Linked DNA regions of Homo sapiens. The protein of the gene in region 2 interacts with the protein of the main gene of each other region in a biochemical or structural test. Each region holds a gene or a part of one and is shown on either strand. Other genes may lie near its edges.

The links.
Region 1: the proteins of OLR1 (region 2) and SLITRK4 form a complex in vitro, tested with the Homo sapiens proteins (one large-scale study listed by IntAct).

What each region holds. Positions count from the first base shown.
Region 1 is NC_000023.11:143,626,102-143,629,945, reverse strand, and holds part of SLITRK4 (SLIT and NTRK-like protein 4 precursor), read left to right. Parts: coding exon 1-1,351; 3' UTR 1,352-3,844.
Region 2 is NC_000012.12:10,159,694-10,162,547, reverse strand, and holds part of OLR1 (oxidized low-density lipoprotein receptor 1), read left to right. Parts: intron 1-1,622; coding exon 1,623-1,762; intron 1,763-2,032; coding exon of another isoform or gene 2,033-2,085; coding exon 2,086-2,201; intron 2,202-2,526; coding exon 2,527-2,668; 3' UTR 2,669-2,854. UniProt on the Homo sapiens protein: Receptor that mediates the recognition, internalization and degradation of oxidatively modified low density lipoprotein (oxLDL) by vascular endothelial cells.

The DNA.
Region 1 (3,844 bases), on a different chromosome or scaffold from region 2:
CATCAAGGATGTGGACGTATCAGACTTCACTGACTTTGAAGGACTGGATTTGCTTCATTTAGGCAGCAATCAAATTACAGTGATTAAGGGAGACGTATTTCACAATCTCACTAATTTACGCAGGCTATATCTCAATGGCAATCAAATTGAGAGACTCTATCCTGAAATATTTTCAGGTCTTCATAACCTGCAGTATCTGTATTTGGAATACAATTTGATTAAGGAAATCTCAGCAGGCACCTTTGACTCCATGCCAAATTTGCAGTTACTGTACTTAAACAATAATCTCCTAAAGAGCCTGCCTGTTTACATCTTTTCCGGAGCACCCTTAGCTAGACTGAACCTGAGGAACAACAAATTCATGTACCTGCCTGTCAGCGGGGTCCTTGATCAGTTGCAATCTCTTACACAGATTGACTTGGAGGGCAACCCATGGGACTGTACTTGTGACTTGGTGGCATTAAAGCTGTGGGTGGAGAAGTTGAGCGACGGGATTGTTGTGAAAGAACTGAAATGTGAGACGCCTGTTCAGTTTGCCAACATTGAACTGAAGTCCCTCAAAAATGAAATCTTATGTCCCAAACTTTTAAATAAGCCGTCTGCACCATTCACAAGCCCTGCACCTGCCATTACATTCACCACTCCTTTGGGTCCCATTCGAAGTCCTCCTGGTGGGCCAGTGCCTCTGTCTATTTTAATCTTAAGTATCTTAGTGGTCCTCATTTTAACGGTGTTTGTTGCTTTTTGCCTTCTTGTTTTTGTCCTGCGACGCAACAAGAAACCCACAGTGAAGCACGAAGGCCTGGGGAATCCTGACTGTGGCTCCATGCAGCTGCAGCTAAGGAAGCATGACCACAAAACCAATAAAAAAGATGGACTGAGCACAGAAGCTTTCATTCCACAAACTATAGAACAGATGAGCAAGAGCCACACTTGTGGCTTGAAAGAGTCAGAAACTGGGTTCATGTTTTCAGATCCTCCAGGACAGAAAGTTGTTATGAGAAATGTGGCCGACAAGGAGAAAGATTTATTACATGTAGATACCAGGAAGAGACTGAGCACAATTGATGAGCTGGATGAATTATTCCCTAGCAGGGATTCCAATGTGTTTATTCAGAATTTTCTTGAAAGCAAAAAGGAGTATAATAGCATAGGTGTCAGTGGCTTTGAGATCCGCTATCCAGAAAAACAACCAGACAAAAAAAGTAAGAAGTCACTGATAGGTGGCAACCACAGTAAAATTGTTGTGGAACAAAGGAAGAGTGAGTATTTTGAACTGAAGGCGAAACTGCAGAGTTCCCCTGACTACCTACAGGTCCTTGAGGAGCAAACAGCTTTGAACAAGATCTAGGTCATGTAATCTTACTTCATACAGAGGACATTTATTTAATGATGAAAGTGCCTTTTGTTGACTTCTAACTTCCAAATACTATATTATCAATAGGCATGGAGGCAGGTGTTTCCAAGGGTGTCTCATTAACTGTAGCTGCAAAGATGTGTCAAGTAGAAGAGAATTTGTTTAATAGATTTTACTACATAAAACCTATACTGTGGAGTCCTGTGGGGATACTGCAAACTCTATTGCCAAAGGGATGCTTTATACACATAATACTGAATTTAACCTCAAGAGGCAAATCTGTTTTGTACCCCAATGCAAAACCTTCGTCTCTTTGTGCTTTGTAAAGCAAACTCAAGAAAACTGGTACACCTGTACCAGCTGGGTCCTTTATCTTGCACGTAGATTAAGTTGGTGGAACTGGAATAATCCTTTTGATTTGTGGCATTGTAACAACTCCGTGTAAAGATTATCTGAAAAGTAAAAAAAAAAAAAAAAAAAAAAAAAAAAAAAAAAAAGCATGCAAAGAGAGAACACTCGATAGTATTTGTAAATTGGTAACCTTTATGGCCTGCATCTTGAAACCGCTGGATTTATAATGTTAATTTGTGCAAATACTTGTTTAAAATATAACATACATTACATAACTATAAAATAAATTTGAACACTTTAAGCATTACCTGTCTATACATAAAAATCTAAAAGAAAAAATCAACGTGAGTTAGATAGCATTTGTGATGATCTGAAGAAATATGTGACGTTTATCAGAATTAAACATGGCTCAAATTAAACTAACACTAGAGTTTGTTCTCAGTTACGTGAAACACCCACAATCCTTCAAGGTTGTCCAAAATAAGCAGAGTGCTTACTGTGTGAGCGCACCCAAAGCTATTTTTGTAACATAATTCATATTTATGAAGTACTTTGTATACTAAATAGGAAAATATGTACTCCTTAATATGTATTTAATATGCCTGACTTGTTTTCCTGATCACAGTGAATTTATCAGTAAGTATAAATGTAGACAGAAAGAAATATACTAAACTGAAACAAGCTGGTGTGAACAGAAATATTCTGGACTTTGTGATCAGGTGTAACTTAAAAACAAAAAAAATTTAAAACAAACAGAAAAGAAAAAAATACAAAAGAACAGTCAATTCTGTGCTATTCTTGTGAATTTAGCGTATTATCTTCAGATTTGTTACCAATTGTGCATTCAAAAATAAGTTCCTTAGTTTTCTAGTATTGTGTCTGGGGCAGTTGTTATTTGCCATCGGTTGTCTTGCTTTTCAGGATTCTATGAGCTTAATTCAAATAGTTTTCGCTACAAGTATTTAAAAAATAATGAATAAGGTTAATAGTTATATCTTGTATGCATCAGTATCCTGTTCTTTCATCATTCAGACTACTATCAGATAATCTAGTAGAACTGTAAACATCATGGTAATCTTGGCTATGAAAGCCACACTGTAAAAATGCTTGCATTGGTTTCAGATGAGTTCACAGTCTGCAACTACAAATGATATGCCCCTGTGTTTGCTTTTGCTAAGATCTAAGTCAAAATTTGTTAAAGGAATAAAGTAACTGATAATGGGTGATGTCGGAACTTTTGTAGGAGCTCCCGATTAACAAAGTGATATTCAGAAACACATTGTCTTCTTGGCCTGCCTGCATATATATATATAGATATATAGATATATATAGATATACATATATATATATGTGTGTGTGTATATATATATGCGTGTGTATATATATGTGTGTGTATATATATACATATATGTATGTGTGTGTGTATACATATATATATAGTGTGTGTGTGTGCATGTGTGAGAGTGTGTGTCCTATCTCTTATAATTACCTTATGAATCAGTAAGATAACCAAGAAGGTAAACATAGCCATTCCTCATGATTGCAAGTGGCATATTTTTTCTGTTGCAGCTTCCAAAATGATACTATGTTTATAGTTGCAGTAGCTGTTCCTTTATTAATCACTAATTTCAGGGCTTTATGTGTTTGTTGCAAGACAAAAAAAAGAAGCTTGGCTTTCTTGGGTGTGTGTGTATGTGTGTGTGTGTCTGAGTGTGTGTATATATATATATGTGGGTATATATTCATACATATAGATAATTTGGAAATCTTTTTTAAATAGCAAAAACCGTCTCCATGTGTATGTGCTGGTGCTCTTAAAACTTTAGTGTGTAATTTTAATTTTTATGACATCTGTGAAAACTTTATATGAATATAAAATAATTCAAACAAATAATTGCTTTCTGATCTTGAAAGAAAAGACAAGATGTGTGCCCAACAGCTTTTTTCATCTACAATTTCATAAGGACTTTTGATATGCCATTACCATGCATGCACACATCCATGGATTAAAGGGCTCCTAATGTATACTGACAGGATAAAGATGCAAAGGCTTCAAAGAAAGTGTTTTAGTTTAGTCTGTCAATAAAGTATGGCTTGAAGGATCTTAAATAGACACTTATAGGAGGAATCAGAAAG
Region 2 (2,854 bases):
CCAAAAACGTACATATATTTATATTTACATAATATGATGGGGTTAGGCAAACTAAGAAGTAAGAAGCTTGCATTGACTGCTTTCAACTTGGTCTCTTTTTCTTTTCATAAGCATCAGTTTGGTGAAAAATCAACTTAGTGTTTTGTATGCTCTTTCTCATTCACTTTTTTCTGTTTTTCAGTCCCTCCTATTTTCTCCTCTCTGATAAAGCCTACTCTTATACATTTATTTAGTGGTTTTATGCCACAGTGAGAATGAAATTAAAATGCTGCCTTTCTCAAAGATTTTAATTTTTCACCTTTTGGTTGTAGTGTAGACCAGAGTACTTTGTTTCCCCTTAAGGAGATGGGAGAGATGATGATGATGATGGTGATGATAGTGATGATTTGAGGGTTCCTGAAAGCATCCATAAACATGTAGACATTGGTATATTTTGCCTATTGTCTAAGTCCTGTTTTTGGTTTGGTGGACTCCCTGTGAATTTTGCTACTGAAAATCTCCTTATTTTCTAAAATCTCGTTTAAATTGAGATCCTCGCTTTATATTAATATACTATTTTCCCTAGAACAACTCTGTACAAAAGAAATATAGTATGTGTTTTTTATATATATATATATATATATCATTAAAATTTCTAGTAACCACATAAAAATGAAAAAGAAGCAGATAAAATTAATTTTAGAAACACATTTTATTTAACCCAAGATATTTGAAATATTATTTCAATACTAATCAGTATAAAAATTTTTAATGGACTATTTTACATTCTTTTTCTTTTTCAAATTAAGTTTTCAAAATCTTTTGTGTGTTTTACACTTATAGTACATCTTAATGCAAACTAGCCGGGTGTGGTGGGTCATGCCTGTAACTCCAGCACTTTGGGAGGCTGAGGCAGGAGGATTGCTTGAGGCCAGGAGTTCAAGACCAGCCTGGACAACATAGCGAGACCCTGTTTCAATTAAAATAATTTGTTTTAAGAAATGCAAACTAGCTATATTTCTAGTACTCAAGAATCACATATGGCTACTGTATTAGACAACACATGTCTGAAAGCAAGACACATAGTATTTAAGCCTAGATTCATTATTCAAAGATATGAAATTTTAAAATGCATAGCATTACTTTTTAAAAATAGCAGAATGGCTATTAAATATCTGTTCTCCCAACCCTCACTTTCTTTATTTCCAACACAACTTTAAAAAATAGATCAGTTTCTAAAATTACATGCTAGCTTAACTTGCTTTTCATCAGGGGAAGTGAAAATGCTAAATGAGAAGTACATTTAGGTTGCTAAAATCAGTATGCTTTCTTTCTTTCTTTTTTTTCCCAAAAAATGAAGAAATAAGGACTCTGAGGCTATTTAGGTATTTGCAGAACCTGGGTAAAATTTTACTTAAGAAGTAGTGTGGGCAGGGCGCGGTGTCTCACGACTATAGTCCCACTACTTTGGGAGGCTTGGCCTACATGGTGAAACCCCATCTCTACTAAAAATACAAAAACAAAAACAAAAACAAAAATAAATAGTATGCACGTGAGAGAACTAAGGGGATCATTGATTTAAGAACTGCAGTACTGCTTTTACACAAACATAACTGACTGATGAGATATACTATCCTTCCCAGCTCCTTGTCCGCAAGACTGGATCTGGCATGGAGAAAACTGTTACCTATTTTCCTCGGGCTCATTTAACTGGGAAAAGAGCCAAGAGAAGTGCTTGTCTTTGGATGCCAAGTTGCTGAAAATTAATAGCACAGCTGATCTGGTGAGTGTTCATGGATATTTGTTGGGGTGGAGTATTGGTTGATAGGGAAATTAATCTGGTTTAAACTGTCACTGGAGGAATTCTTGTTTGAGAGCCAAAATGTCTGTTTTTTTAGCTTAGTCTGATCACCAATTTTGTGTATGACCTTGGACGGACAGGCTCTGTAGTATCTCTAGCCTTCAGTAAGTGTTTCCGTAAAACAGTCAAGGGGATGTCAAAGATACCTTTTGGTTCTTTAGTTTTGTGGATCCAACACTAACTGACTTTCAGATTCTAAAACCACCATGTGGATTCCACAAACTCAGAAACATTACTCCCCACAGGACTTCATCCAGCAAGCAATTTCCTATTCCAGTTTTCCATTCTGGATGGGGCTGTCTCGGAGGAACCCCAGCTACCCATGGCTCTGGGAGGACGGTTCTCCTTTGATGCCCCACTTGTAAGTTTCCCATTCTTTTTGATGCCTCTCTCGTCAGTTTCCTATTCTTTGCTGAACCTGCTAGTGAGGTCACTGCCTGCATCCCACCAATGTCCTCTTCTTGCCAGAGAGAAGCTTGGGGGAATTTCTCAAAGTCTCCTTCCTTACCTCTTTCACAAAAAGATTTACTCATTAACCATTCAGACATTTTCTTGAGTTTTCCTTCCCACATTTATTACTGATTGGAGGCTTTAAGACAAAAAGTTTCAAAAGCTAAGTTTCTGAAACAAGGTGGCAGTAAACCTAAGTTTTTTTGTTGGTTTGTTTTGTTTTTTCCTACCTGCAGATTTAGAGTCCGAGGCGCTGTCTCCCAGACATACCCTTCAGGTACCTGTGCATATATACAACGAGGAGCTGTTTATGCGGAAAACTGCATTTTAGCTGCCTTCAGTATATGTCAGAAGAAGGCAAACCTAAGAGCACAGTGAATTTGAAGGCTCTGGAAGAAAAGAAAAAAGTCTTTGAGTTTTATTCTGGAATTTAAGCTATTCTTTGTCACTTGGGTGCCAAACATGAGAGCCCAGAAAACTGTCATTTAGCTGGCTGCAGAACTCCTTTGCAGAAACTGGGGTTCCAGGAGCCTGGCACCTTTATGTCAACATTTTTGATTCTAG